Regions from separate parts of the Homo sapiens genome. Here all the other regions are linked to region 2. Evidence: fine-mapped expression QTL. A gene starts in region 2. Each other region holds a variant in brackets. All regions are shown on one strand. Distances are from middle to middle. Region 1 overlaps TCTN2 (tectonic family member 2). Region 2 holds the start of TCTN2 (tectonic family member 2). Region 3 holds the start of ATP6V0A2 (ATPase H+ transporting V0 subunit a2).

Region 1 (8,255 bases), 22 kb before region 2:
ACCCGATTGCCAAAGATGTAAAGTCGTGACATTATTCATCCTGTTGATATTTAGAGCTCGGACAGGCTTGCCAAGTTGGTAACCTAGACAAACACAACAAAGGAACGTGAGCCTGTTTCCTCCAGCATAGCAAGCCCTAACTCTGCAAATAATACAAGAGTCATGCACAAGGAAAGAAAACACATAGGCGAAGCTTTCGAAAATACCCTTGAGAGAAAGATGGCAACTTCGGGTCTCAAAAAAAACAGTAGCTAAAGAGAAAGAATGCTTCACATTTACAGCAACTTGTTACTATGTACAACAGACTATGTAAAAAAAAAAAATACATTGTTATCACAAAAAGAATACCATGTCGGCCAGGCGTAGTGGCTCACGCCTGTAATCCTAGCACTTTGGGAGGCCGAGGTGGGTGGATCACCTGAGGTCAGGAGTTCGAGACCAGTATGGCCAATATGGCAAAACCTCATCTCTACTAAAAGTACAAAAATTTGCTGAGGGTGTTGGTGGGCACCTGTAATCCCAGCTACTTGGGAGGCTGAGGCAGGAGAATTGCTTGAACCTGGAAGGTGGAGGTTGCAGTGAGCCCAAATCGTGCCATTGCACTCCAGCCTGGGTGACAAGAGTTAAACTCCGTCTCAAAAAAAAAAAAAATGAATACAGTGCCACAACAGAGAATAAAGAGGCTGGGGCAGTGGCTCATGCCTGTAATCACAACACTTTGGGAGGCTAAGGCCAGGGGATCACTTGAGGTCAGGAATTCAAGACCAGCCTGGCCAACACGGTGAACAACAGCCTATCTCTACTAAAAATATAAAAATTATATTAAAGTGAGCAACCCTGCAAGCCTCTCTTTGGAGAAGTAGCAGATGAATAAAACTTCCTGTGTTGTGTGATTAAAAAAAAAAAAAAAAAGCCAGGCATGGTGGTGTGCACCTGTAATCCCAGCTACTCAGGAGGCTGAGGCAAGAAAATCTCTTGAACCCAGGAGGTGCAGGTTGCAGTGAGCCGAGATTGCGCCACTGCACTCCAGACTAGGCAACAGAGCAAGACTCCGTCTCAAAAAAAGAAAAAGAGAAAATAAAGAAAAAGGTCAGAGTCAGAAACTAAATTGGAGAGAGTTACTTATAACCATCCTGATGGCTGGGAGTGTTGAACTAAAGTATGTTTGTAAGATCAATGACTGGCATATACTCATCTTACCTGGATTTCCAGATAATTCTTCTTCATTACCACTATTATAGCTTAAAAATTTTACTACAAATCTCTGTGTCATTATCCCTAGAAATAAAACAAAATAAAATATAATGTGCACCATTTCACTAGGAAAAGAAATTATTCTCCATAGTGTTTACCTTAAAATTGCATTTTGTCATACAAAGTGTACTCTCGTTAATTAAATCATAAATGCACATAAGAAACAAGTCCAACTTAGTTTTATGGGTTATAATTATGAGAATCTTGAAAAGAGGAAAAAAAAATACTTTTCAGTGAAAGCATGCTTGCTACCCTCATCAAAGTTACCTTTCTGGTGGGCATTAATCTCTGCCCTAAAAATTTTAACATTTATTTCACTGATGGTATTATTATTCCATTTGAAAATATAATGTTCTTCCACATTCACAATTCTAGGGGTTGATCCGTTATTTAAAGGAGTTTCTGCAAATACAAGAATATGTTCATAAATTAAAGACCCTCTTTGAGCCTGACTCTGTTACTGGGAGGTTCTCTCTGCTTGCGTGGCCTTCCCCAAGTGCCCTGCCCCTGCCCTCCCTATCTCCAGCTCCCTAACATGGCACGGTCACTGCTTCCTTGAGGAAGCCTGCCCTGGTCCCACCAAGTCAGCATTAGCTGCCTCCTCTATGCCATCACAGTACCCAGAATGAGATCTGTTCCTTTCATTTCTATATCTCCAGCACCTGGCTCATAGCTTGCCATGGAGCATGCACTTGGTAAAATGTTTGTGAGATGAAAGACCAGAGGGTCAGTTCCGCCAGGGCAGGGGCCCGCTATCTAGTTCCCTACTACGGCGTAGGAACTCCACTAACATTTGATGAGCCAATGAATAAATTTGAGAAGTACAACACATCAGAAAGAGACACCCAGCACTTGGGGAGGCCGAGGTGGGCAGATCACCTGAGGTCAAGAGTTCGAGACCAGCCTGGCCAGCATGGCGAAACCCTGTCTCTACTAAAAATACAAAAATTAGGCCGGGTGCGGTGGCTCACGCCTGTAATCCCAGCACTTTGGGAGGCTGAGGCAGGCAGATCACGAGGTCAGGAGTTCAAGACCAGCCTGGCCAACACAGTGAAACCCCCTCTCTACTAACAATACAAAAAATCAGCCAGGCATGGGGGCAGGCACCTGTAATCCCAGCTACTCGGGAGGCTGAGGCAGAAGAATCGTTTGAACCCAGGAGGCAGAGGTTGCAGTGAGTGGAGACTGTGTCACTACACTCCAGTCTGGGTGACAGTGAGACTGTCTCAAAAAAAAAAAAATACAAAAAAATACAAAAATTAGCCGGGATTGGTGGCAGGTGCCTGTAATCCCAGCTACTCAGGAGGCTAAGGCATGAGAATTGCTTGAACCTGGGAGGTGGAGGGTACAGTGAGCTGAGATCACCCTATTGCACTCCAGCCTGGGCGACAGAGCAAGACTCTGTCTCCAATTAAAAAAAAAAAAGAAAAGAAAGAAACAAACAGTATCCTTCATTAAAAACTAAAGTTCTGGTAAAATTAGCCAAACTGAGCCAGTCGCCGTGGCTCACGCCTGTAACCCCTGCACTTTGGGAGGCCAAGGCAGGTGGATCACCTGAGGTCAGGAGTTCGAAACCAGCCTGGCCAACATGGTGAAACCCCGTCTCTACTAAAATACAAAAATTAGCCAGGCATATGGTGGTGAACACCTGTAATCCCAGCTACTTGGGAGACTGAGGCAGGAGAACTGCTTGAACCCAGGAAGTGGAGGTTATAGTGAGCCAAGATTACACCACTGCACTCCAGCCTGGGTGACAGAGCAAGAATCCATCTCAAAAAAAAAAAAAAAA[T/AT]CTGCCAAACTCTACGTAACTTATTTGGCTGCATCACAATTGGAAAGTTTAATTATCAAAAAAAAAAAAAAAAAAAAAGGAAAGAAAGCAAAAAGTGAAAATGCTGTGCCCTAAAAAGTTCTTTTAACTGGTCGGGCGCGGTGGCTCACACCTATAATCCCAGCACTTTGGGAGGCCAAGGCAAGTGGATCACCTGAGGTCGGGAGTTCGAGACCAGCCTGACCAACAGGGAGAAACCCCGTCTCTACTAAAAATACAAAATTAGCTGGGTGTGGTGGCGGGTGACTATAATCCCAGCTACTCAGGGGGCTGAGGCAGGAGAATCACTTGAACTCAGGAGGCGGAGGTTGCAGTGAGCCGAGATCATGCCATTGCACTCCAGCCTGGGTGACAAGAACAAAACTCCGCCTCAAAAAAAAAAAAAAAAAAAAAAAAAGAATTATTTAACTATCAAACATTTAAGGAAAGGTTCACGGAAGCTGGAACTAGAAGGGTCGGTGGAACTCAGAGAATCCAGGACTGTGGAGGAGCAGGCTCAAGGTCACAGAGAGCACTCTAAAGCCCAGCAGGACAGAACGAGGAACAAATGAAATGTTCCTGGCAGATCTTTCTAACTATTGTGAACCTTTTTAAATGACTAACAAAAATATACACTCTGAGGGTATATATTACTTGTAAGAAATGACATATCTGTTTCTGAAGAAATGACGTCAAAGTGTAACATTAAATACCTGTATTGGTGATGAATTTGTCTAGGTCAGTTGCTTCCTCATAGATCACTTTTGGTGTAACTATGCCTAAAGAGATAACATAAATTAACTTCCACAGGCGTACACATGGCCTACCATGATCACACTTACTCAAAGTATAGCTTACAAAGCAAATATGGTGACCGCAACTGCCCAGGGTGCTGACTACAAAACCCTCCCCACTCCCCAAAAACCATCAGATAGGAGTCCCCATCCTCTTAGCATCTAATTATAACGGAGGAAGAAAATCCACAACAAACACACAAACAAACAAAAACCAGGGTCACTGTGACATAAAAACAAATATGCAGTTCACTGCTGGTGGCAATACAAAATGGTGCAGACACTGTAGAAAACAATTGGCCAGGCGCAGGGGCTCACGCCTATAATCCCAGCACTTTGGGAGGCCGAGGCAGGCAGATTGCCTGAGGTCAGTTTGAGACCAGTCTGGCCAACATGGTGAAACCTCCTCTCTACTAAAAATACAAAAAAATTAGCCGGGCGTGGTGGCTCATGCCCGTAATCCCAGCACTCTGGGAGGCCGAGGTGGGTGGATCACCTGAGGTCAGGAGTTCGAGATCTGCCTGGCCAACATGGTGAAATCCCATCTCTACTAAACTTCGTCTCTACTAAAAATACAAAAATTAGCAGGGCGTGGTGGTGGGTGCCTGTAATCCCAGCTACTCGGGAGGCTGAGGCAGGAGAATCGCTTGAACCCAGGAGGTGGAGGTTGCCGTGAGCCGAGATCGCGCCATCGCACTCCAGCCTGGCGGACAAGAGCAAGACTTGGTCTCAAAAAAAAAAAAATTAGCCAGGTGTGGTGGCACATGCCTGTAATCTCAGCTACTTGGGAGGCTGAGGCAGGGGAATCGCTTGAACCAGGGAGGTGGAGGTTGCAGCGAGCCGAGATCACGTCACTGCACTCCAGCCTGGGTGACAGAGCAAGACTCCCTCTCAAAAAAAAAACCAAAAAAACAAAAAAAAAACAATTTGGTGGGTCCTCAAGAAGTCATATTAGCATGACCTGTCAGTTCCACTCCTAGGTGTCTACCCAAAAGAAATAAAAACACACATCTACGCAAAAACTTGGACACGAGTGTTCATGGCAGCACTATTCACAACAGTCAGAGATGAAAACAACCCACATGTCCATCAACTGAGGAATGGACAAACACAATGTGCTCTGTCCATGCAATGGACTATGATTCAGCCATAAAAAGGAATGAAGTGCTGCCACACACTACAAACACGGATGAACCATGGAACACCATGCTCAGTGAAAGAAGCCAGACACAAAAGGCCACATAGTGTATGATTCTGTTTCTAGGGAACACCCAGAATAAGCAATCCACGGAGACAGAAAGCAGATTGGTGGCTGCCAGGAGCTGAGGGAAGAGGGGTAGGGAGTGACTGCTAATGGGTACAGATGCCCTTCTGAGGCGATGAAACGTTCTGGAACTAGAGAGAGGTGATGGTGGCACAACAGTGTGGAAGGTACTAATGTCAATGAATTGTACACTTTAAAAGGGTTAATTCTGGTGGGACGCGATGGCTTACACCTGTAATCCCAGCACTTTGGGAGGCCTAGGAGAGTGGATCACCTGAGGTCAGGAGTTCAAGGTCAACCTGGCCAACACAGTGAAACCCCATCTTTACCAAAAACACAAAAATTAGCCAGTCATGGTGGCAGGCACCTGTAGTCCCAGCTACTCGGGAAGCTGAGGCAGGAGAATCGCTTGAACTTAGGAGGCAGAGGGTACAGTGAGCCGAGATCACGCCACTGCACTCCAACCTGCGTGACGGAGAAACAAACAAAAAGGCTAAATTTATGTTATTTGAATTTTACTTCAATTTCAAAATAATTAATATGCAATATGCTGTCTTACGGAACTAAACTTTTTCCAAAGAAAATAATTGGCAGTTCAAATATTATTTGAAGTTGAACCAGTAGAAATGATTTATACTCTCATGAGATCATACTTTATATTCATGTTTGGGCCTGTGTTCTTTTTTCAAAGAAATGTAACATACCTCCTAAGGCAACATTCTTTATCTTCGCATTGATAATACCATCTCGTTCTTGGTATAGTTCCAAATTAGTAACGCATTTAACATCAAAATTGTGAAGAAATGCCACTGGGGCGTTCTGCATACACTGCCCAGCCAGGGACACCTGAGGGAGAAGGGCAAAGCCAACAGATTTATGGCCTCTCTCCTAATCATACAAAACAGATCAGCATCCCTTAAAACTGGTCTTTCTGCAGCCTGCTCCCATTGCTGGTCTGGTTTCAGCAACGGCAAGTTCACCGACTAGTTGACCCGCTTTAGCAAAACATCTAACTGATTTGCCCATCAAGGTCTGGAAGCCACTGGTTGTGGAGTCACAGTAAATATTGTCTAATAAAAACAAAGAAAATCCCTTGTCCTGTTCTATTTAGTTTGCAGAGACATGACTATATTTAACTTCATGTTCTCTCCCTCATCACAACCAGAGTTTAATACCATAAAAATGGATTCATATGAATAGGAAAGAGAAATTTTCACCTCCCATGCTTTCTTCCCACAAATAACACTCCTCATAATGTTGAACTTAAAAAAAGATTTCAGGTTGGGAGCAGTGGCTCACACCTGTAATCCCATCATTTTGGAAGGCTGTAGTGGGAGAATCATTTGAGCCCAGGAGTTCAAGACCAACCTGGGCAACATAGCAAGACCCTGTCTCTACAAAAAGTAAAAAATTAACCGGGTATAATGGCATGCACCTATAGTCCCAGCTACTTGGGAGGCTGAGGTGGGAGGATTGCTTGAGCCCATGAGATGGAGGCTGCAGTGAGCTGTGACTACACTCACTACACTCCAGCCTGGGCGACAGAGCAAGACCCTGTCATTCATTCACTTGTGCATTCATATATAGATATACAAATGATTCCATATACAACCTTACAGCCTTAAAATATTTTTCAAAATTCTAGAATGGTAAATAAAATGATGTATTTATCTAACCATTGTTTTTTATACCGGACCCTACTTGAGGGTAGTGAGTAGGAGGAGGGAGAGGATCAGAAAAAAACTATTGGGTACTTGGCTTAGTACCTGGGTGACAAATAATCTGTACAACAAAACCCCATGACACAAGTTTACCTATATAACAAACCTGCTCATGTAGCCCTGAACCTAAAATAAAAATATAAAAAGAAAAAGAAGCAAAGAATGATAGTTACTGCTAGCCAGGCATCAAGGCTCACACTGTAATCCCAACACTTTGGCCAAGGCAGAAGAATTTCGAGGCCAGGAGTTTAAGACCCGCCTGGGCAACATAGTGAAACCCCCATCTCTACAGAAAAATTTTTGGCTGGGCGCGGTGGCTCAAGCCTGTAATCCCAGCACATTGGGAGGCCAAAGTGGGCAGGTCACTTCAGCCCAGAAGTTAAAAAGACCAGCCTGGGCAACATGGCAAAACCCCACCTCTACAAAAAATTAGCCAGGAATGGTGGCATGTGCCTGTAGTCTCAGCTACTTGGGAAGCTGAGGTAGGAGGATCACTTGAATGTGGGAGGTCAGGGCTGCAGGGAGTTGAGATCACGCCAGTGCACTCCACCCTAGGTGACAGAGCAAGACTATGTCTCAAACCAAAACAAATTTTTTTAATTTAAAAAAAAAAAAGACTCATGCCTGTAATCCCAGCACTTTGGGAGGCTGAGGCAGGCAGATCACCTGAGGTCAGGAATTCGAGACCAGCCTGACCAACATGGAGAAACCCCGTCTCTACTAAAAATACAAAATTAGCTGGGCGTGGTGGTGCATGCCTGTAATCCCAGCTACTTGGGAAAGCTGAGGCAGGAGAATCGCTTGAACCCGGGAGGCAGAGGTTGCGGTGAGCTGAGATTGTGCCATTACACTCCAGCCTGGGCAAAAACAGCGAAACTCTGTCTCAAAAAAAAAGAAAAAGAATGATAGGTACTTCCATGGAAACTTATAGAAAATCTTTTGGTTTTATTTTGTAAGTTCACTCTGAGTTTTAAGCAAAGACAGTGATTAAGAGTGACTATATATTTTATTAATTTGGAGAACATAAACAGTTAAGTCCCTGAAAGGTAGAAAGGAGGAAAGTAAGTAACTTAAAAAGAGATTTTAAAGAGAAATATGACTTAAATTAACAATAGGACAGGAAAAATAAAAGAAGGGTCTAGTGGCCAGGCATGGTGGCTCATGCCTGTAATCCCAGCACTTTGGGAGGCTGAGGCACTAGGATCACAGGGTCAAGAGATCGAGATCATCCAGGTCAACATGGTGAAACCCCGTCTGTACTAAAAATACAAAAAATTGGCTGGGTGCGGTGGCACACACCTGTAGTCCCAGCTACTGGGGAGGCTGAGGCAGGAGAATCACTTGAACCCGGGAGGCAGAGGTTGCAGTGAGCCGAGATCTGGCACTGCACTTGAGCCTAGGAGGTAAGAGCGAGA
Region 2 (8,268 bases):
GCTGGGCGTGGTAGCGTGAGCCTGTAGTCCCAGCTACTCGGGAGGCTGAGGCAGGAGAATCGCTTAAGCCCAGGAAGTGGAGGTTGCAGTGAGCCGAGATCACAACACTGCACTCCAGCCTGGTGACAGACTTAGACTCCATCTCAAAAAAAAAAGAGAGAGAATCAATGTACATAAACAAATTTCACCTTCTCCCAAAAAGGATTCAAGGTAGCTTATAAAGATGCAAACAGTAGAGAAAGATCAAATAAATGTTAAATAAAATAGTACAAAATGAAATTTCTTAAAAGAAAACTAAACAAAAGAAAAATAAGTTTAGAAAAGCAAGACAGACTCAAGTGAAGTATACTTTACAAATTGCATGGCATACACTTATAATCAAACAGGTAAGCTTGACACAAATTTTTCTTTTTTTGTTTTTGTTTTTGGTTTTTTTTGAGACAGGGTCCCACTCTGTCACCCTGGCTGGAACGCAGTGGCGCGATCACAGCTCATTTGTAGCATTAACCTCCCGGGCAGCTCATTTATAGCATCAACCTCCCGGGCTCAAGCAATCCTCCTACCTCTTCCTCCTAAGTAGCTGGGAACAACATGAAAGTTTTGACAGTCAAAGACTTCACTTGCCTGAGGCATTATGGGTCAGAGAAGAGTTGGCATAAATTTCCACTTGAATGAGTAGATGTGCTGAACAGGATGAATTATGAGATGCTGAAACCAGAAGGGTCTGGAGGATACAGGGGGACTCTGAGAAGGAATCTGTCTCATTGGAGGAACACCAGTCCAGACCTCTCTTCCACCTCACTGTCACTTCCAACACCTTCTGAAAGGAAAACATTGCTGTATTTTTAAAGTGACTCAAAACAGGGTCTATAAGAATACATAATGGAAAACACAATAAAAGTACACATCAGCCTCCGTTCATTTTATAAAAGGGAAATGTATACAGAGATGACACAGTTATCTTCAGTTCCCCCCCATAAACCTATGGTAACATGCAAGCCCTGATTCTTCTTCCTTAACATAAAAGCAAACAACTTCGGGATACTTAGAGAAAGCTAAACACAGATCTGATAAATAAACTCAGTTTATTGTACACCTTTTTAGTTTCTTTATCATCCTATCAGTGGAAGAGTAAATACACAAAAAAAGTCAATGAAAACAATCCTCAGTTTATCCCAGAATGACTTTAGACATGTACATGTTCACTCCTGGGGTACAAGCAGAGCTTGTCTTTCCTGTCCTTTTCTCTCCAGAATTGATGTTGCATATACTAGGTATCCAATAAACACTTATTAAATAGAAGATGCTTAATCTCTCCAGGTTTGAGTATCCTTACACATAAGCTCAGAGTTGGGCAAGATCAGTGGTTATGAAGCTTTTTTTTTTGAGACGGAGTCTCGCTCATCACCCAAGCTGGAGTGCAGTGGCGTGATCTCGGCTCACTGCAATCTCTGCCTCCCGGGTTCAAGTGATTCTCCTGCCTCAGCCTCCAAAGTAGCTGAGATTACAGGCACCCGCCATCACGCCCAGCTAATTTTTGTATTTTTAGTAGAGATGGGTTTCACCATGTTGGCCAGACTGGTCTTGAACTCCTGACCTCAGATGATCCGCCCTCCTCGGCCTCCCAAAGTGCTAGGATTACAGGCGTGAGCCACCGCGCCTGACCAGCTTTTTCTTTTTTTTTAAGAGACAGGGTCTTGCTCTGTTGCCCAGGCTGGATGAAGTGCAGTGGTGCGATCATAGCTCTCTGCAGCCCTGAACTCCTGGGCTCAAATAATCCTCTTGCCTCAGCTACCCCACCCCCCTCCAAGTATCTGGGACTGTAGGTGTACGCCACCCACCTAATTTTTTTTTTAATTGTTTTGTAGAGACGAGGTCTCGCTATGTTACAGGCTGGTCTGGAACTCCTGGGCTCAAGCAATCCTCCCGCCTCAATCTCCCAAAGCGCTATGAGTACAGGCGTGAGCCACGATGCCTGGCATAAAGCTTTTTTGAATCACTGACCCATTTGATGATCTAAAGGAAACTGGTGACCCTCTCATCAGAAAAATGCACATACACACAGAACTTTACATACAATTTCATAGAGTTCACAGACCCACTGAAATACATCCAAGGACTCCTAACCCCAGGGTAAGGAACCCGTGGGCTGGATAAGTGTCTACCAGATCCAACAGCCCACAATTTCATGATTGTTGAGAGCATGGAGAAAGCCATGCCTTGTTAAATAAAGAGAGCACTGCAGAAACCCTAGCTGGGGGCCTCTTCACAGGCTACAGAGAAGGTTTACTTCTGGCCTTACCGCACCGGGGATCACAGTCACGCTCCAGTCTTCCGTCTCATTGTTCAGCACTCCACACGTCGGAATTGGCAATATTCCTAAAGAAAGAAGACCAGCATGCAAAGGCAGCAAGGTCCAGCAGCTCAGGGGGTGCATTGAGTCAGACTGCCTAGGATGGACTCACATTACAGCCTAAGATTGGGCCCTTTACAAGCTGCTTGACACTGGGACAGTGACAACCTCTCTGAACTTGTTTCTTCCTTGGTCAAAGGGGATGAAAAGATATTACTGTTCTTACTAGGAAAATGGGATGATGCACGATGTTAGCTCAATGAATGCTAACCATTATTATTTCAGGCTTTCTTCGAACCTGTCCGTCTGTCCTCTTTGGCCTACAGCAGCCGCCCGATCCTTTTCTCCCCATGCGACTTTGCAGAGAACAGAGGCAGGGGGCCCCAAGGATGCCACCTCTCCAGGCTCCTTGGGAGGTCTGGATCCAGTCCAACCCCCACCCTCCCCAAAAGAGGGCCGGACTTTACCCGCCTCGTCCTGCAGCACTGCCAGGGACACGGTCACACCCTCGGTGTCTCCGACCAGGGACGCGCTGACCGCAGGGCCGGACATTCGGATAAAAGGAGGGATGAAAGCTAGGCGGGAAGGAAAGGGGACAAGGAGGGGTTAGCAGTGGAAGAATCACCGCCTAAGGTGTGTGTGGCGGCTTGCTTTGGCGTTGTCGACTCCCGAAGCTCCCGGGGGAGTCCAAGTCTGGCCCTTTTAACGCCCAGTCCCCTCAGCCCCGGCCCACCGAGGTCACTGCCGCGCCGTACACACCCAGGTCCCCCCACAGAAGCCTCAGGATGCCCTGCAGAAGGAAAAGCCTCAAAAGAAGAGCGGCCGGAGGCTGGAAGCCCATGCCTTAGACCTCGCGGGCCGGGCACAGCAGAACCGCGCCCTCATTAGAACCCAGGAAGGACTCAGACACGAAAACGCAGCAGCCACTGCCCCGCCGCCGCCATCTTGCAAGCGAACGCCCGGAGCTATGGCAACCACCAATCGGCGGCCGGCCAGGAGGAACGCCGCGCTGTGATTGGACCAGTGGCAAGAGCGGGCACCCCGGCCCCGCCCACAAGGCCTAGCATTTTTGCTGCTTGACTCTGGTGGGGAGAGTGAGGGCTGAAAAACTACCTATCCGGTGCTCCACTTAGTACCTGGGTGACGAAACAATCTGTGCACCCAACCCCCGTGACACGCAATTTACCTATATAGCAACCTGTACATGGACCCCTGGGCCTAAAAGTTGAAAACATCAAAATTAAAAAGGTCCTGAAAAGCAGGAGTGCGTGTCCGGCTCAAAAACTGGAGTTTTCCCCTACCCTGGAATTAATCCAACAATAGCCAAGAGCGATCCTATAGACACTGGCTTCTAAATAAAAAGGGTGGGACTTGCTCCTTAATAAACTTGATTTTTATACGGATTTGTTTTAGGGGTGAGTAGAAAAAGGGGATGGGGCTGCCGCGCTGTGTTTATTATCTTTACTATCGTTTATGATGTATTATTTATATTTTATATTTTTATAAAATAAATATATATTTACAAAATAGATATACTTTGTTTTATATATATATATCAGATATACATACTTGATATATATAAAATACATATAGGCCGGGTCTGGCGGCTCATGCCTGTAATCCCAGCAATTTGGGAGGCCGAGGCGGGCGGATCACAATGTCAGGAGTCTGAGACCAGCCTGATCAACATGGTGAAACCCCGTCTCTACTAAAAATACAAAAAATTAGCCAGGCGTGGTGGCAGGCGCCTATTATCCCAGCTACTCAGGAGGCTGAGGCAGGAGAATTGTATGAATCTGGGAGGCGGAGGTTGCAGTGAGCCGCGATTGCACCACTGCACTCAAACCTGGGCGACAGAGCCAGACTCCGTCTCAAAAATATATTTATTTATTTATTTATCTTATAAAATATATATGTATTTATATTTTATCTTATATATATTTATCTTTTATATAAGTATATATTTTGTAAATTTTATACTTATATGTTATAATTTTATAAAATTTATATTTTTATAATTCTTATCATTATCATTTATTATCACTATTGCTTTTATTATCATTCTCCTAGGTTTTTGAAGGATTTTCTCCCCTGCACAGAGCTCTCAGCACTCTGAAAGCAGATCCAATCACAGAACACACAAGAGGTTTTGCCCAGCAATAGGACAGATGTGAAAGAATCAAAATTCTGTCTGGAAAAAAATTGTTTTTTCTTATATCAGTAGCCTCAGAACATTTCAAATATTGTCACGGCTTGGGGACTGAGAGTGCAGGGTCTGAGGTCAGGCTGCCTGGCATGGGATTTCGCCTTCCCTCCACAGATATTCTCAGCTGTTAAGTGACTTTGGGCAAGTCAACCTCTCTAAGTTTCAGCTTCCTCATCTATAAAAAAGGGATGATAATAATCCTTCCTTGGGGATTGTGTGAGGATGAAATGAGGTAACATATCTAATGAGGTTAAACCAATGGCTGGCATACAGTAAGCACTCAGTTAATGATCAGTTACTTGTTAACTATCAGAGAGGTGGTGTATCCTTTAGCTGAGACAATCATGGTGTTCAGCATTGTGGCTGACTGACGGTAAATGCCAAGTAAATGTTTGCCATTATTAGTCTTTTTTTTTTTTCTTTTTGAGACAGGGTCTCACTCTGTCACCCAGGCTGGAATGGTGCAGTGGCACAATCATAGCTCACTGCATCCTCAAACTTCTGGGCTCAGCTGATCCTCCCACCTCAGCCTCCCAAGTAACTGGCAATACACCACCACACCCGGCTAATTTTTGTATTTTTTATAGAGACGGGGTTTCACCATGTGGCCCAGGCTGGTCTCAAACTCCTGGGCTCAAGTGATCCTCCTGCCTTGGCCTCTAAAAGTGCTGGGATTACAGGTATGGGCCACCGTACCCAGCCCCATTATTACTCTTAATGTTCAGTTATATATTCATTGATCAGCAAATCTAACATTGTGAAAGGATTCTGAAAGTTGAGGCTTTATAAGGGCCTGACACTGGGTGTTATCTTTTTCTTATACTCCCTGAAAAACTGTGGGTCACTACAGTTGTAACATGAGCATGAAACTTTTCCCGTGTACCTCAGCTCCTCTCTGGAAGACTGCAAAATGTTTACCTCTCTTGATATCTTGGAATGAAGCCTAGGAGAACGTTACTAAGAGGAAGCTGTCAAACACTTAAATATTTCTGTTATTCCCCATCTGTCTTTGGGGGGAATTAATCTGCAAATTAAGTTGGCAAGGCCAAGCGGTAAAGATTAAGAGATAAATCCTCCCAAAAGAAAACATTTCTGGGCCGGGCTTGGTGGCTTATGCCTGTAATCCCTGCACTTTGGGTGGCAAAGGCACATGGATCACTTGAGGCCAGGAGTTCAAGACCAACCTGGGCAACACAGAGAAACCCATCTCTACCCAAAAATACAAAAATTATCTGGGCGTGGTGGCGCATGCCCGTACTCCCAGCTACTCGGGAGGCTGAGGCAGGAGAATCGCTTGAACCCAGGGGTCGGATGTTGCAGTGAGCCGAGATCGCGCTACTGCACTCCAGCCTGGGCAACAGAGTGAGACTTCATCTCAAAAAAAAAGATAGAAAACACTTGAAGCTGGTGATCAGCAGCTTCCCGATAAGATCTCAGGAGTTGGGCAAGCAGGCTCATGCATACATAGTAAGAGGCAAGATGGCAGATTTTAACTGGTATATAACCTTCCTCTGGGAAGGCTCGACTGGTAAAGGAAAATGCCTCAAATGAGCATGCGCACAACTTCAGTAAACACACTGCACATGCGGCCCCTCCCAAGTGCTGGCAGGCCACTGACATGCAGACAGCCCACCCCAAGGAAAAATCAAGGGAGGGCACAAACCTCAGAACCATGCTAATGTATAGAAACCCCCAGTGAAGGGTCGGACGGGGCACTTGAATCTCTCAAGTCGCCCGCTTGGCCCTCTTCCAAGTGTACTTTACTTCCTTTCATTCCTGCTCTAAAACTTTTTAATAAACGTTTACCCCTGCTTTAAACTTTGCCTTGGTCTCTCACTCTGCCTTATGCTGCTTGGCCAAATTCTTTCCTCTGAGGAGGCAAGAATCGAGTTGCTGCAGACCTGTACAGACTCGTCACTGCTAACGGTGATCCAGGGAATTCTCCAAGATCGTACCCAAGATCACCAAGGTGGCACCTCTACAAATATGTAAACTATTCATATCTTGAGTAGTAGACTAAAAGGCAAACCTATCAAAAATAATAACTACAGCTTTTTAAGACATAGTATAATAAGATATAAATATTGTAGAAACAAAAAGTTAAAAATCAGAGGGATGAAGTTAGAGTATTAGTTTTCTCTGCTTGTTTTTGCAATCAGAGTTGTCATCAGTTTAAAATAATGGGTTATAAGATGGTATTTGCAAGCCTCATGCTAAACTCATATCAAAAAGCCTACAACAGATACACAAAAATATAAAGCAAGAAATTAAAACATACCACCAGAGAAAATCACTTTCATAAAAAGGAAGATGGAAGGAAGGGAGGAAGGGAAGATCAGAAAACAAATTTAAAAATGGCAGTAGTAAGTCCTTACTTATAAATAATAACATTGAATGTAAATGGACTAAACTCTCCAATCAAAAGACATAGAGTGGCTGAATAGATTTAAAAAAAAAAGACCTAATGATTAGCTGCCTATAAAAACTCTTCACCTATAAAGACACACATAGACTAAAAATAAAGGGATGGAAAAAGATATTCTAATGGAAACCAAAAAAGAGCAAAAGTAGCTATATACTTATATCAGATAAAATAGATTTTAAGACTAGGTGTGATGGCTCATGCCTGTAATCCCAACACTTTGGGAGGCCGAGGCAAGAGGAACCCAGGAGTTGCTTGAGCCCAGGAGTTCAAGACCAGCCTGGACAATACAGCAAGATGCTATCTCCACAGAAAAAGAAAAAAAAGAGGCCAGGCGCAGTGGCTCACACCTGCAATCCGAGCACTTCGGGAGGCCAAGGTGAGTGGATCATCTGAGGTCAGGAGTTCAAGACAAGCCTAGCCAACATGGCGAAAACCCATCTCTATTAAAAATACAAATATTAGGCTGGGCTCGGTGGCTCATGCCTGTAATCCCAGCACTTTGGGAGGCCGAGGTGGGAGGATCACGAGGTCAGGAAACTGAGACCATCCTGGCTAACATGGTGAAACCTCATCTTTACTAAAAATACAAAAAAATTAGCTGGGCATGGTGGCAGGTGCCTGTAGTCCCAGCTACTTGGGAGGCTGAGGCAGGAGAATGGCGTGAACCCGGGAGGCAGAGCTTGCAGTGAGCTGAGAACACACCACTGCACTCCAGCCTGGGCGACAGAGCGAGACTCTGCCTAAAAAAAAAAAAAAAAAAAAATTAGCTGGTCGTGGTGGCAGGTGCCTGTAATTGCAGCTACTCGGGAGACTGAGGTGGGAGAATCACTTGAACCCGGGAGGTGGAGGTTGCAATGAGCTGAGATCATGCCACTGCACTCCATCCTGGGTGACAGAGTGAGACTCTGTCTCAAAAAAAAAAAAAAAAAGTGGTAAAGAAGGTCATTATATAATAAGAGGCTCAGCAAGAGAATATAACTATTGTAAACATATATGCAGCCAATACTGAAGCATTCAGATATATAAAGCAAATATTATTAGGGCTAAAGAAAGAGATAGACCCCAGTACAATAACAGTTGGAGACTTCAACCTCCCACTTTCAGCATTGGACAGATTATCCAGACAGAAAATCAACAAGGAAACATCAGACCTAATTTGCACTATAGACCAAATGGACCTAATAGATATTTATGGAACATTTCATCTAATGGCTATAGAATACATTCTTCTAAGCACATGAATCATCGTCAAGAATAGATCATATGTTAGGTCACAAGTCTTTA
Region 3 (8,000 bases), 42 kb before region 2:
CCTCCATAAACTTTCTAAAAATCATGGGTAAACTCTACCATACACCTCAATAAAGTTGTGTAAAAATGACCAGGTATTTGATTATATTAAGAAATGTTATTTAAATTTTCAGGTACAATGTTGGTAATAATTTTTTATCTTCTAGGCCAGGCCTGGTGGCTCATGCTTGTAATCCCAGCACTCTGGGGGGCCAAGGTGGGGGGATGACTTGAGGTCAGGAGTTGGAGACCAGCCTGGCCAACATGGTGAAACCCCGTCTCTACTAAAAATACAAAAATTAGCCAGGCGTGGTGGCGCGCGCCTGTGATCTCAGCTGCTCAGGAGGCTGAGGCATGAGAATCACTTGAACCTGGGAGGCAGAGGTTGCAATGAGCTGAGATCGCGCCACTGCACTCCATCCTGGGCGACAGAATTGAGACTCCATCTCAAAAAAAAAAAAGAAAAAAAATTCATCTTTTAGAGGTACTTGTTGAAAAGTTAAATTATATATCTTGGATTTGCTTCAAAATGATCTAGTCTGGGAAGTGAGAAAAAACTAAGTTTACATTTATGGGTACATGGGGGTACACTGTACTCTTCCCTCTACTTATAATATAAAGTTTAAAACAATTTTAAAAAGTTGTAAAAGAATATTTAATAAAATTAGGAAGTTAGTCATGATTTCTGTGTAAAGCAGATTAGGATGTTTTCAGTGTGGTTCAAATTATATAAAAATACATATATATGGACATTTTTAAACATTATTAGAGAAATGCTGATTGTCCAGTATTAGCCAAAAAGTTAAAGTTAATTTCTAGGCGTTGGGATCATGCAAGGTATGTTACTATTCTTATGTTTTCCACATTTCTCACAATGGTCATCTATCACTTTCATACTTCAACAATTTACAGTATATCATTCATGTTGAAAGCCATTTAAGACACGAAATTTATCTTTATTCCATCCAGGATTTGTACTGGGCACTCTCAAGAAACAGTTAAGATACAACTTGACATGAAACTGCTCAACCTGGTAAGTGTCTACTCAGTGTCTGACTCAGTTCTTGTTCATTTTTTGGGGACTTTTTTTTTAAAAGAACCAGAAAAAAGGTAAAAATTCTCATTTCACTTCTGTTTGTCACCTTCTCATTCATTTCTGGAGGTCGAACTAAAAGTAACCACTTCCAAGTTACTAATGATTCAGACACAATCTAGTTCTATGGAACTTGTTGGAAAGGAAGTTCTGTGTCTAAAGCTGTCACAGGATACTACTTCTCAGCTTTCATTTTCTTCCTTCAATATCAAATAGTACTTAACTCTAAATGGGCATGATGTTTCTACAAATAGTAGAATCTTTATTTATAAAGAGGTAAATTTCTGTGGCAATAATACAAACATGGATTTCACATACATACACCACCATCACCAGCTTACATATATTAACTTTTTTTTGAGACGGAGTCTCGCTCTGTTGCCAGGCTGGAGTGCAGTGGCGCGATCTCAGCTCACTGCAACCTCTGCCTCCTGGGTTCAAGTGATTCTCCTGCCTCAGCCTTCTGAGAGTAGCTAGGACTACAGGCACACCCCGCCATGCCCAGCTAATTTTTGTATTTTTAGTAGAGACAGGGTTTCACCATGTTGGCCAGGATGGTCTCGAACTCTTGGCCTTGTGATCTGCCCGCCTTGGCCTCCGAAAGTGCTGGGATTACAGACGTGAACCACCGTGCCCAGACATATTAACTTTTTTTTTCTATTGTGTGGTTTCTTTTATAAATTTTGGGTTTTTTTTCCCTTTTAGGGCAGCACCCTAATTCAAGGCTAATGGAATAAGGTACATTTTAATGTAGATTCAATTCAAGGCACATTTAACCTAGTAAAACCGGCAGAGGAGATCTGGTGCTGTTTGTTTTGATATTCACAGCCATTGATACTCCCACTTCAGCTGAAGGACTAAAGAGGAAACCTGTTCTTAGACTGAGAACTGTAACAAAAGTGCGAACTTTCCCTTCAGGGAGTCCTCCCCATCAGCTGAATGACCTTTCTTTTCCAGGTACTTCCCACTAGCTGTCACCACGGAAGTCACCACCTGCCCCCCTTTCCCTTGCAAGGGTTACTAACAGTGATCCCATCTGGTCACCACAAAGTCAGTAGGAAACTCAGGCTGAAGACACACTGAAAACCTAGCACCACACAAGAGCTCATCGCAGCAACCTTAGTTTTACTTCCTTCTGGAAAAAGATGAACAGCACTTTCTTCTCCTTTCACTGACATTCAGTTGAAAAGGATCCCAGGTACACTCTATGACTGGAGGTAGTGGCGCTTATTGAAACTGGAACCTTCATAGTGATTAGTACGTTTGCTCAAACCTGTAAGACTGAAGTGTGATAAGTGTCTTGGCTTGAGTACTAACCGGAAGGAAAACATCTACCTGTTACAAATGTAGGAGCCTGCTGCACCTGCAGCTGTTGCCTGAATGTTTTGGGTGCTATTCACAGCTCAGCGCAGCATCCATCAGGTGAATGGGTACAACTGCAGAAGTGGCTCCAGGAACCAGGAACCGCCCTGCATCTTACCTGCACCCTCGCCTGTCACTCAGGAGTCTCTCCATGACTTTGCAACTGCCTTATGGGGCTGATCTGGTATTAGATATCTGATATCAATGGATATCAGATCTCGGGTAGGGCTGATCCCTTTTGAAATTAAGGACACCTTAGGAAGATTAAGGGAAACAGTCAGGAGATGAAAGTGGTGGCCAGGAAATAAAATGTTCGCCTGAGTGGATTTCAATTCAGTCAGTAAGTACTTGCTTCACGGTCTCCCTTCCACACCCTGTTCTTTGCCTTCTTAGCACTTATCACAGCTCATAATCAGAGTGTGTTTAATCTGTCTCCTCCCACACTGGAAGCTCCAGGAACACAGGGACTGTGTCTGCCTTGCTCACCACCGAGTCTCCAGCACCAAAAACAGTGCCTGAACATAGCGGGCAGTCAAGAAAAGCTTGTCTGTTCATTCAACAAATGCCTATCGATGCCAATGACTGCCAAGGACTGCGTTAAGGTACTTACTCTCAGAGGTTGACAGTCCTTGGTGGAGACAAACAATAAACAAGTAAATGGACAAACAAATGTTTATTATTACTTGTTGGGGAGACAGCTTCCACTCGACAAACAATGACTGAGTTCTTAAGTCCTTACACACAATGGTATGTACAGCATTAAGCATCAGTGACCAAAACACAAAAATCCCTCTCCTCAAGCAGATGACATCCAGCTCCTTCCCATTTCTGGCTCTGTCTGGGCTCCTCCTGTTCCCTCCAACAAGGACCCTCTCCCCAGATCTTCCCCACGGCTGGCTCCTTTCTATTTGGGTCTCAGCTGAAATATCACCTTCTCCGGGAGGCTTCCTCGACAATCCCTTCACACTCACCTCCCGCCCGAATCACCTTCACATCACCCCGTTTCTTCTTTATGGCAAACCTTTTCTGGTTGACCTATTTATTTGGTTAATGCGCCCCCCTAACCCCCGTAAAGTTCCAAAAGGACTCCAAGAGGCCTTTGTGGGATTTGTTCTCCCGCTGAGCTCGGTGCCCGGAGCTGATGAAGACCACACGGGCGATCCTAACTAACTGGGGCAGAGCAGCCGCCGACCACACAGACGGCCGGCGACCCTGGAGTCAGCCCCGCGCTCCGGGAAGCTTTGGCCGCTGAGCTGGGGTGTCATCTTCCCCGTCTGGACAATGGGGACGGGGCGCGCCCTTCCTCGGTGCTCCCCGCGGGAGGGCCCCAGCGATGCGCGGGAT[T/G]GGGGGCGCCAGGAGAGCAGGTGCGGCCCGCGTCTCCCGGGCGACACTCACGTCTCGGAACTGGACCAGGCCTTTCTCGCCCAGGGCGCTGAGGCACTCGTAGGCCGTGCCCGACTGCAGGAAGAGCTGCGCCAGGCACATGGTCTCGCTCCGGAACAGGGACCCCATGGCGGGCCGACCCGCGCCCGGAGGGGCTCGATGGGCGGCGGCGGCTCCGAGCCGCGCGGGCCCGCACACTCAGCCGGTGCGGCCCGGGCCTCGAGCTCTTCCTGTGGCCTGGCCGCGGCCCCGCACTATGGGGCTCCAGACTGCAGCGGCCGCCCCCGGTTCTGCCACCGCGGCCGCCGCTCCAGCTGCCGCCACAGCAGTCCGCGAGGTCCCGCCCCCAAGCCACTGCCGGTTCCGGTTCCGCCCCCGCGTCCCGCCCCCCCCGCCGGCCGACCAATGGACGCCCGAGGTTGTCGCCGCACGACGTGGCGGCAGGGCCAACCAGCGCGAACCCGGCGGGTACGACCACTGCAGCTGGCGCTCCGCCGGACTGGACGCAGAGCTAAATCCCGCGCGGCTCCCCGGCTTTCCTGGAGGAGTCTCGCCGAGTGTGCACGCCGCGAAGCTCACCCGTTCCTAGTGCACGACCCTGTGCTGCTGCGTGTGTGTGTGTGTGTGTGTGTGAGAGAGAGAGAGAGAGAAACGGAATCTCACGCAGTCCCACAGGCTGGAGTGCAGTAGCGCGATCTCGGCTCACTGCAACCTCCGTCTCCCAGGTTCAAGCGATTCTCCAGCCTCAGACTCCCCAGTTGCTGTGACTACAGACGCGCGCCACCCGCGTCCAGCTAATTTTTTTGTATTTTTAATAGAGACGGGGTTTCACCATGTTGGCCAGGCTGGTCTCAAAACTCCAGAGCTCAGGTGATCCGCCTGCCTCGGCCTCCGCAGTGCTGGGATTACAGGCGTGAACCACTGCGCCCGGCCCTGCTGCTGGTTTTTTATGGATAGGGTTTCCCTCTGTGGCCCAGGGAGGAGTGCAGTAGCACGAGCTCGGCTCGCTGCAACCTTGACCTCCTGAGCTCAAGCGATCCTCCCACCTCAGCCTCTGGAGGAGCTGGGATTACAGACGCGCGCCATCACACCCGGCTAATTTGTTTTTAAAATGTTTATAGAGAAGGGGTTTCATCATGTTGGCCAGGCTGGTCTCGAACTCCTGAACTCAAGCAATCCTCCCGCCTTGGCCTCCCAAAGCGCTAGGATTACAGGCGTGATCCGCCGCCCGGAGGGATCCTAGGCTTCTTCGTGAAGTTGGAGTGTGCAGCCAGCATCCCAATCCAGTTTTCAAACATTTCCCACCGACCTCGCAAGACTCCTCCTGCTCAGTTGCAGTCTCCCCTTCCCGCCCGGCCTGGCCACCACAGGACAATTTTGTCTCGCTAAATTTGCCACCTCCAGGCTTGTCCTGTCGATGGAATCACACAGCACCCAGTGTGTGTTCCCCACACTGACCGGGAAGCAGTGGCCCCCCGCCCCAGGCCGCAACCTCACCGCTGTCCCAGTCGAGTCTCTGCTTACATATCCCCTTCCTTGAGACTGTCCCTGGAGTCACATCCTTGTTCTATTTCCTTCACTGCACCTGCCACCATCTGAAATTATCTTGTCTGTGTGTTAGTGCCAGTCTTCCCTGCTAGAATGGAAGCTCCACCAAGGTGGGGACATTGTTTCTGCCACTGTGGTATCTCCAAGCCCCAGCACATAGTAGCCACTCAATAAATAGTTCATGAATGCATACATAAATGTATAAACTTAAAAAAGTTAAAACCATAGACACTCCAGACCCCATTCTGCCAAACTGAGTTTTTTCCTTCTTTTAAGTACAAAAGGCGTCCTCACAAAGCCCACAAAATCAAGCTAAATTACCTGTCATTTGGAAGTTTTAAATTTATTTTCCATAAATACCTGAAATCCAAAGCTAGTTACACTAGGCTGGGTGCCCTGGCTCACTCCTGTAATCCCTGCACTTTGGGAGGCTGAGGCAGGTGGATCACTTGAGGTCAGGAGTTTGAGACCAGCCTGGCCAACATGGCAAAACCCCGTCTCTACTAAAAAAATATAAAAATTAGCTAGGCGTGGTGGTGGGCACCTGTAGTCCCAGCTACTCGGGAGGCTGAGGCAAGAGAATCGCTTGAACCTGGGAGGTGGAGCTTGCAGTGAGCTGAAATGGCATCCCTGGACTCTAGCCTGGGCAACAGAGTGACACTCTGTTTCAAAAGAAACAACAACAACAAAAAGATACAGTAAGAACTGTGAAGGTGAATTCAAAGGCTGAAGTTCAGACAATAATTGACTCAGACCCCAGCTCCGTCAGTCCAGTACTGACCCAGATTCCTGAGTCAGCCCTAGAGGGGTCGGGTGAAGGCCCAACACCACCACAGTACAGATGCTGAAATTCACGGTATTTCCATCATGCAGAAACTTAGGACCTCTGCAGTGACTAGCTCATCCCCCTATTTGAAAGTGGACTCAGGCCGGGCGCAGTGGCTCATGCCTGTAATCCCAGCACTTTGGGAGGCCGAGGCGGGTGGATCACGAGGTCAGGAGATCGAGACCATCCTGGCTAACACAGTGAAACTCCGTCTCTACTAAAAATACGAAAAATTAGCTGGGCATGGTGGTGGGTGCCTGTAGTCCCAGCTACTCAGGAGGCTGAGGCAGGAGAATGGCGTGAACTCGGGAGGCGGAGCTTGCAGTGAGCAAAGATCACGCCACTGCTCTCCAGCCTGGGCAATAGAGCAAGACTCCGTCTCAAAAAAAAAAAGAAAAAAGAAAATGGACTTAAGACTGGAGGAAAATTTGAAATTGCCCCTGGGCAGGAACTCTGCAGCGAAGATGAAACAGCACATTTTATGTGGTGCTGGGTATCAGCAGGCACTAGGAATTCGATCAAAAAGTATAAAAGGGAAAATAATTATTTTTCAAAATTAGGCTTAAATAACATAGAAAATCCATCTGAAACAACTAAGTTACCTGGCACACAAAGAAAACTTACAGGTGATGTGCCATGTGGCCACTGTAGGACCGTGGCTAAAAACATCTATTCCAGGGCTGGGCACAGCAGCTCATACCTATAATCCCAGCACTTTGGGAGGCTAAGGCAGGTAGATCACTTGAGCCTAAGAGTTCGAGACCAGCCTGGGTAACATAGGGAGACCCCCTTCTCTACAAAAAAAAAAAATACAAAAACTAGCCAGGTACAAGCCTGTGGTCCCAGCTACTTGGGAGGCTAAGGTGGGAGGATCACTTGAGCTCAGGAGGTCGAGGCTGCAGTGAGCCGTAATTGTGCCACTGCTCTCCAGCTCTCCAGCCTGGGTAACAGAGTAAGACCGAGTCTCAAAAAAAAAAAAAAAAAAAAAATCCATTCTCCCCACTGAGTGGGGTTGACTGTTCCCATGTGACGGCCCATGGGAGAAATTTGTCAAGACTCAGCTAGGAAAAACTGTCCTTCATTGATAACCAGTTAATTTTTAATGAATAGATTTCATAATTCCTGTATTAATGAATAGATTTCATAATTCCTATAGCTAATCATACTTGGGTTTTTGTAAACTGGGGTCTTGGTTGGGCATAGTGGCTCCTGCTGGTAATCCCAGCACTTTGGGAGGCTTAGGTGGTAGGATCGCTAAAGCCAGGAGTTTGAGACCAGGCTGGGCAACATAGCGAGACCCCCATCTACTAAAAAAAAAAAAAAAAAAAAAAAAAAAAAAAATAGCCAGGCGTGGTAGCTGTGTGCCACCTGTAGTCCCAGCTACTTGGGGGAGAATCGCTTGATCCCAGGTGTCTGAGTTTACAGTGAGCTATAATCGTGCCACTGCACTCCAGCCTGGGCAACAGAGGGAGAACCTGTCTCCAAAAAACAAATAAATAAATAATGAATTAGGGGCCTGCTTCTGCTAAAGGCAACCTCTGGCATGTATTTTAGGGCTTACATGTGCCCCTGGTTTTGTTTTACTTTTCTCTTATTATTTTCCTCCCGCAGCCCCCATATCTTTCCCCATCAGTGATTTTGTGTTTTTGTATTACATGCATTTTTAAGGATTTCTTAATCCTTTCTACGGAATATGGGAAACATCAATCAACACGAATGTATTAAAAACTAAAGAAAAGACTGATTCTCTCTGGTATAAATAAAACTCCTATGACTTTAACTAATTTGTGATAAGCTAAAATTTCTAACA

What was found. PIP is the estimated chance that this variant, and not a neighbour inherited with it, causes the effect.
Region 1: its variant is fine-mapped to the expression of TCTN2 in lymphoblastoid cells (GEUVADIS, PIP 0.95).
Region 3: its variant is fine-mapped to the expression of TCTN2 in lung (TOPMed, PIP above 0.99). The same link has a PIP of 0.9 or more in fibroblasts, left ventricle and minor salivary gland.

What each region holds. Positions count from the first base shown.
Region 1 is chr12:123,688,243-123,696,497 of GRCh38, reverse strand. TCTN2 (tectonic family member 2) reads right to left here. Exons shown (of 18, transcript NM_024809.5): 8 at 5,824-5,965; 9 at 3,775-3,840; 10 at 1,522-1,656; 11 at 1,201-1,278; 12 at 3-83. Among named protein-coding and RNA genes, the nearest start is that of ATP6V0A2, 20 kb to the left of the region's middle. The variant T/AT (reference allele first, on the strand shown) is at 3,044.
Region 2 is chr12:123,666,167-123,674,434 of GRCh38, reverse strand. TCTN2 (tectonic family member 2) reads right to left here and starts at 3,322. Exons shown (of 18, transcript NM_024809.5): 1 at 3,113-3,322; 2 at 2,821-2,928; 3 at 2,303-2,379; 4 at 625-820. The coding sequence starts at 3,194.
Region 3 is chr12:123,708,511-123,716,510 of GRCh38, reverse strand. ATP6V0A2 (ATPase H+ transporting V0 subunit a2) reads right to left here and starts at 4,158. Exons shown (of 20, transcript NM_012463.4): 1 at 3,829-4,158. The coding sequence starts at 3,945. LOC105370042 (a long non-coding RNA gene) reads left to right here. Exons shown (of 3, transcript XR_945477.4): 2 at 948-1,011; 3 at 1,777-3,745. RefSeq lists a silencer at 3,784-4,333. The variant T/G (reference allele first, on the strand shown) is at 3,778.